Linked DNA regions of Homo sapiens. The protein of the gene in region 1 interacts with the protein of each later gene in a pairwise test. Each region holds a gene or a part of one and is shown on either strand. Other genes may lie near its edges. The genes, in order: STMN2 and CCDC85A.

Evidence for each region.
Region 2: the proteins of STMN2 (region 1) and CCDC85A interact in a two-hybrid assay, tested with the Homo sapiens proteins (one large-scale study listed by BioGRID and IntAct).

The regions. Positions count from the first base shown.
Region 1 is NC_000008.11:79,617,585-79,621,418, forward strand, and holds part of STMN2 (stathmin-2), read left to right. Parts: intron 1-3,357; exon of another isoform or gene 3,358-3,378; intron 3,379-3,547; exon of another isoform or gene 3,548-3,620; intron 3,621-3,834. UniProt on the Homo sapiens protein: Regulator of microtubule stability. When phosphorylated by MAPK8, stabilizes microtubules and consequently controls neurite length in cortical neurons.
Region 2 is NC_000002.12:56,344,246-56,348,079, reverse strand, and holds part of CCDC85A (coiled-coil domain-containing protein 85A), read right to left. Parts: intron 1-3,834. UniProt on the Homo sapiens protein: May play a role in cell-cell adhesion and epithelium development through its interaction with proteins of the beta-catenin family.

The DNA.
Region 1 (3,834 bases):
AAGGAAGACACACTTAAGACAGCATTACAAAAGTAATTCATGTTTTAAATGTTTAATTCTGGCAGTCGGGCAGGGCTCTCTGTATAACCTCATTTGGAGATGACAAAAATCTAAACTTGAGGGCCTCGAGCCAATAAGTCTTCCTATTTCTTTACTCAAACATTTTCCCGCAATGGTGCTTTCTTTCAACTGTTTTTCTGGTGTATTCATAAATTCCAGATTCTCTATGGGAAGTAACTTTTATTGATTGATTTAACCCTTGTATAGCACATATAACATGCAAGGCATTGTTCTAAGAACTTTCCACATATTAACTGTGTTAATCACTTAATAATCCTAAGTAGGTTCTATTACAGATATGGAAACTGAGGCACAGAAAGTTGAAGTATCTTACTCAAGGTCACACAGTTAGTCAGATCCAGAATTTGGGCCCAGGCCATCTGGCTTCGGAATCCATCTTTCACCGATTGCTGCTAGTCTCATATCTGTTCCATGTTAGAGGTGAGCTCCCATTGCAGAGGTCACACCTGTGATATCACCATTTTATTTAAACAGACCAGAGATGGTCTTCTCCTTTCTGATCACAGACTCACCTTGAAGAGAAAATACTTCCAAATTGATGCCTAGTTTTAATAGCTTACCTGGGGCTTATTCAAATAATTGCCATGATTTAGGCTTTGGGAGAAAGAGAGCTATGAGGCCGTGTGGGTTGTAACGTATGAGACACATGGCGTTCTGCAGGCTCAGCACAGCATCGATTTCTGGTGGGAACACACTCTGATGACCAGTTCCAGAAATAACATTGACTTAATCTCCTCAGTCCCATCATGGTTAGCACATTTCAAAATGCCTCCTTAACTACTTCCATAGGCCAGAGATATTTAGTTTTAACATTTTGTTGAATAAAATAAATTTACACATTCACATTTAATATAACTATTAGATGTTATTTCAAGATTCTCTTCATATTACCATCAAAGCAGGCAGGCAGGCAGGAGAGAACTGTAGGAAGGTTTTGAATCCCTTGTGAAACATTTTTAATTATCTTTTAATAAAGGAATCAGGCCCTGTCATTTGTCAAGGAGACATTTGCAGTAGTAAAGCTTGTGTTTATAATATCCATTTTTATTAGTCATGATTAAAGATAACATTTGTGTACATTTGTTCTCACAAAACACTTTTATATGAGTGTAAAGGTTAATTAATGCATTTCAGCCATCATTTTGCTGGTCATGTGGAAATATAGCTTCTTTAGGAATTGTACTTAGAGTAGGAGCCACATATTATACTATAAAACCATAACAAAAATATTTTAAGTTTGTTCTCACTTGTTGTTGACCTCCAGAGTAAAATATTTAATACTCTGGAAAGTTATGGGTTTCAAAATTTATTTTATGGCAAGAAATAGATAATTACAGTTCTCATAGAGCACATTTAAAATAATTTATTTTTATAGGGCAAAAATATTGCCTAGGACTGAATGATTTTTTTTTTTTTACAAAGATTGTAAAGCAACGCCTGCAAGAGTGCCCATTTAGCAGTTATTCTTCTGGAATAATTGTATTTTGGATGTTGGAGTTCGCACATTAACCATTAGTACAAGTACCCAATATAACAATAGATCATCAGGATAATAAATCTGTCCATCTTTTAGTTGTATGTCTTTATATCAGGATAAAGAGAATTGAGTGAAATTTATCTAAACCTAGTCCCACAAATACTTTTACAAGAGAGCATGTTAAAGTGTAAATTAAATTTTTATTAGCATTCTACTCTGTCTTTGGAAGTTTTTTTTCCTTATGAAATGCAGCCATAAAGTTTAACTTCCATTAACAAAGCTGCTCACAGTAAACCTATTATAATAATAGTTTCCCAGTTTGGGCTTCCTAGTGAGGAGCAACCTAACTCACACGAAACAACCCCAACTTATAATATATTGACTGTTACAAAACTGAGACCAGAAAATCCCATCAAGATGGTACTGTTATCATTTCCAGACTCTCGGGAAGAACATTAATCATCTCAGGCACTTTTAGGATAGACTTATTGCAGCCTCCCTGGGAACTCTGCTTCAGAACATAATTATTTTTATTAATGCAGAGTTACTTTTTATTTCCAACAAAAATATCTATTGTTATTATTTAAGTCTTACAGCTTTATCTGAGAAATTCCAATTAGCACCCTTCTCATAATAAATATTCAAACACATGAAAAATTACCAAAGTTGTTCTAGTCTTTTAATGACATATTACATGATCCTGCACTCTTGTCACTTTAAAAATTATCTTTTTATTATATTTCTGATGATTTTTTTCTTATATAGTTTTTTAAAAGGAGCAGGCAAGCATAGAAGACTAAAAAATGTTCAAAAGAAAAATTAAATCGCATGATCTATCTATATGGGACCTTGTCATTTTTAGAAAACATTCACCTGCTTCATCCTTTTGAATCTTCATATAATCCCTCTGAGATGGGCATACTATACAAGTTGTCTTATTTAAAGATTGGTAAATTTAAGCTCAAATAATTTATTCAGTGGCAAGCCTCAGAGGCAGACTCGGAACACAGGTCTAATATATATTATATATATATTATAACATATAATATATATATTACATATAATAAAGTTGTGTATATTATTTACCTATCAAAATATTTATATGTAATATATAAATATGTTATATATCATGTATGTGCCTATTTCATACATATATACACATTCATGCAAAATAAGGTTTAGCACTCCCTCCACTGTCCTGTAATAAAACATGCACAGTGAGAATAGTCATACACGAGGCATATTTGTCTTCAGTTTAAAGTCATTGATAGTCAGTGTCACTAACTAAAGTAAAATAGATTGGAGCACCAACTTTGTTCTGAAGCCTGTGCCAGGTATTATGAGAACAAAAATAAAAATGTTCCTCACCCTTGGTGGATTTAGTCTTTTGCAGAAAAAAAGATCCTGTACATGTCAGAAAGTTCAATAGTAATAATGGTAATTTATAACTATAAATGGAAGTCACCATCTCACAATTTCACCATCTTAACAATTTTGTTAAACTGCCCTACAATATTACAAGATAGTACATAATGATACACTAGTAACATCAACTAGGAAGTACCAAGATCCACCAAAAGGCTGAAAAATTTAAATATTTAATGAGTCCATCAACCAATCTGGCCAGAGAATTCTTTAATTAAAATGCTTCCCAAATTTTACTGAGAATCAGCAGCGTTTGAGGAGCTAGCCTCCACCCCCAGAGGTTCTCACTCTATTAGGTCTGAAGCAGGTCCCATGGATTTGCATTTCTAACAAGCTCCCAGGTGGTGCTGATGAGGCTGATTCAGAACCACACTTGGAGTAGACCTAAAACAGCAGTGACCTGTAGGGTCCCCAAGCAGCAGGCCAGGACAGCATGTGAGTTACGTCCTCTGTGGAGCTCTGCAACAAGGCGTCAAGAGGTCAGAGTCTAAGTCCCCATCAGCTCTGCCCTTCTCCACCAGTGCTGCTGGTGCTGCATGGAAGGAAGAGCCCAGAAGGGATTCTGAGTTTCAGTCTTTACTCTTGCTGACGCACCTTGGTCAGGTCAATTTTCCTGTTTGTTCCTCTAATTCAGCATCTGTAAAATAGCCATGTGAACTGCCTTGTCCATATCAGAGGGTCTTTTTCAGACTCAAGGAAAAAAACGTGAAAGTGATTAGTGTCTGTCAAGTAGTATATAAATGCAAGAAGTTGAGTTTTTAAATTGTCATTAGATATAAATACCCATGTGCATGCATTTAGAATGAGTAAAGAGGGAACAAGGAGCGCAATCAAAAACTGCGTCATTTGCT
Region 2 (3,834 bases), on another chromosome or scaffold:
AGTCAGCACAAAATAGGTGAGAATAGTTTAATAATAACTTTTACCTCAGCATTACATGTGAATAGTAACTGATGTCTTAAAGGGTAGTACTATTTACTTTATAATAAACTCATCAGGTAGGTATTCTATATCATCCATTTAAAGATATTTTCTAGTTGAATAGGCCTCACTGCACATGCAGCATATAAACATATCGACTATGTCTGGATTAAAAAATCTTTGTGACCATCAAGAAAAGGATAATGAATGGAGTAGAAAGAGCTAAGCAAGGTTTTTGAATTTGGGCTAAAAATCAAATTTCAATTTTAAAATTTCAGTTTTAAAACCATGACTGTAACTATCAGTTCCCCCTATCCACCCTCCTCCAGTTCACTCTGAACCAAAAGGCCCTCTCTTACCACATTCTGTTAAGCATAAATTTTCCATGCAGGGGTGGGAATTTGTGTGTATATAATAAACCTTTATGGTTTTCAAGTACTATGGAAATGTGTCAGGGAGAAGACCCTGTAAAATGCACTTTTTGTTTTATTTATGTTGTATACCATGGCGTTAAGAAAAACTGAACATTTATTTTAAAGCAGGAATGCAATAAACATCTAACAAATCTCAGATGGCTAAGCAGATCCAATGTTAGTTTTTAAGATAAATGTTGGAAAAAATGAATTTGTCAATAAGATAAAAATAGGTTTAGTAGCTTAATTACACTGAATCATATTAATGGTATGAACGGATTAAGGGAGCCACTGTGCACATGCTAGAAAGAACACTGAATAGGCCTACATTTTATGAAGCCCGGCCTTCACTGGCTGCCTGACAGGAGGACGCTCCTAACCTCTGTGAACCCAATACACCTTGACTGAAAAGGGGGGTTGTCCTATGTGACACATAAGGTTCTATCCAGCTCTGGAAATTGATGATTCTTTGTATAGAGAAAACCTGTATTTATTTGTAAGTATGTATAGAAGATAGGTGTGTTCCTTTTTATTTTGATACAAAACTCCTTAAAACTACTTTACACCCTACTATGTCATTATTTACAAATGTCTACTTACATTATTCAGAGTGACTCCATCTCACTGGATTCAAAAGTTAATGAAATCTCATAGACAGCAGCTATATTTATTTAAATAAATTTATTTAAGCACGATTTTTGTTTGAGGTTCACATCACATCACATATCCATGCAGTGGAACTGACAGCCAATGTGAGCAGCTTAGCATTATGTGTATTATGTGTACTGTAAGAGATTATATGCAATTCTTTGAAAAAGATTTAACTGTGATCTGTAAAAAATGTTCCCATTTGTTCATGTGCTCGGAAGAATATCCTAAAGTCCAGGTGACCTTTAACTACCATTTGTACTAACTTTGAAGAGGCATTTTCTTCTCAATAATAATAACTAGCACATAATGCAGCATTTTCTAAAAATAATAAGACTGGCTCTTACCTTAGGATACCTTTGAAATGTTGTGTTCACAAACTGGGTTTAAAATACTGCTCAGTGATTCTTGCAGGACACAGTACACACCATGGCAGATCAAGGAGCTCTACATTCACTGGGGATGACTTGCCACGGTGGCTGTACAGAGGCTCCATCAGCACTTCCTGTGGGCTCCTCTTCACCACTGGATAAAACTAACTTAATCTTCACTGCCTTTATCTGTGAAAGAGTCCTTCATTCTGGGACTTGAACATTTTGTATATGTATAAAACATGGGCCCAAGCCTTTATTTACCCCTGAGCCCACAAAATGTAAGAGCTGAGAAGAACCCCTTCATTTACAAATGAAAAAATTAAGGTCTTTGCATCTAACCAGGGAGAAATCCACAAGCATTTATTATATTCATTGTGTTTATTTTTAAATATTTATATTGCTAGGGCAAAGTTGTGACTTTCTGTTCATTATATACAATTTTATATAAAGAATAAAAAGGAGCATTGAGGAAGATTTCTTCCTCCAGGACAGTGCTTTACATAATTAGTCTGAACTCTAAACTAAAAGCAAAAATTCTGGCTACAGCTGCAAAGGTGTTTTACATACTTGGGATTCCAGCTGCCAGCTACATTCTTACTTCTGTTTATTCAAAGACAAATGGACACGCTTTAATAAATTTGGGAGTGAAAAGGAATACCTTCTGATCAAGGCATAGCAAACAAATTCTTATAACTGAAAATCAAGTGTTCTAATATTGAGATTAACTTAGGCTAGGATGTCAGCTTTTCTCATTGAATTGACCTTGCAAATCAGCTAACATCATAGTTAGAAACAGTTTCTGCAGGGAAATCTCATGACACATTATTTGTAATAGTATCAGTAACATCTAAGAGTAAGTTGTACAGGTAAATGCCTTTGTGTAATCCAGCTGAAGTCTCAGTCTCCCATGAGAATTCTCTACATGATGCTCACTGTTCTGACATCCATTTATTGTGTTCCATCCTAGGGTCTTACCTACTGTCTGTATTCATGTTAGTTTGTATTTATAGGAGTAGCTGCAACTGGTACCTCTATTATATCTTAGTAGTAAATGAAGGCACCACTCTCTGATATAGAAATTTAACAGAAATCCTGTTTTTGAATTGACAGATCTACTGCATTCTTTGCATATGTCCAACAGCATATTTCAAACAATGGGTTCTCTTTGTATTAAATTACTTTGACAAGTAAATAACTAAATTACTTTGACAAATAAATAACTAAAACTAAAACATTGTTTTCCCATTTGTAACATCGCTGAAATCTGCAAGAATCTGGCATGGTATAACCGATACCATTTTTCTTTTGTAATGCTACATATCATGATGGTGCATCCCACATCAATAACATCTTAGCATCAATAAAACATGATCTTTCCTAGCCATTTCTTAGAGAGAAAAAAATGAAACAAAACAAAATGAACCAAAAAACCTTCCTTGGTAGCAAAATAGTAATGTATTTCAAAGGATATAACTGAACACTTTAAATTGAGTAGTTGTTTAATCTTGCTTAGTCTTAACTATGCAAGTACTATGTATTCCAATACACATAGACACATCAAGTATAGTTAAGGACTCTTCTGATTTTCCTTCAAGACTTCTAACACTCACTTTCACAGGTTTTTAAGAATCAGCCTTGTCATCATTTTCACATTTGTTGTGCCTCTTTTTTTTTTTGATAAGATGGCATACATGCTATTAGTTTGCTGTTTGATGTCAGCCTCAATTCCTTCTCAGAAGGAAACTAAGAACAAAAATCACTTGGATTTTTTTTCTATTTCTTTTACATTCCCAGTCGCCTGAGAGATGGCACAACCATGTATAATAAACTAACTAGATTTTGTAGGTTTCTTTGTAACAAGTAAGAAGTTAGATGTTTTCAGTCAAGGGCCTTAGGACAGTCATACTGTGAATTTAACATAAAAGGCAAAAAGGAACACAAAAAAATTTTAAAAGGAAAACAATGAAGAGCAAAGAGAAAACAAACCCACCAGTAGTATTTTATTTCATGACACAATCTCTTCTGTCATCATGAATTTTAACACATGTACAGTTTGAGAAGAGATAGAAGTACAGAATTCCACCCTTAGCCTCAGTTTCTGTTACTTGTAGTCAATCAGGGCCCAAAAATATTAAATGGAAAATTCCAGAAATAAACAAGTTTTAAATTGTGGGCCGTTTTGAGTAGTGTGAGGAAATCTCATGCTGTCCTGCTCCATCCCACCTGGGATGAATCCATGCTGTCTACACTTCCTGCCTGTTAGTCACTTAATGGCCATCTCGATGATCAGACCAATGGTCACAGCATCTCAGTGCTTGCGTTCAAGTAACCCTTATTGTATTTAATAGTACTTTACTAAT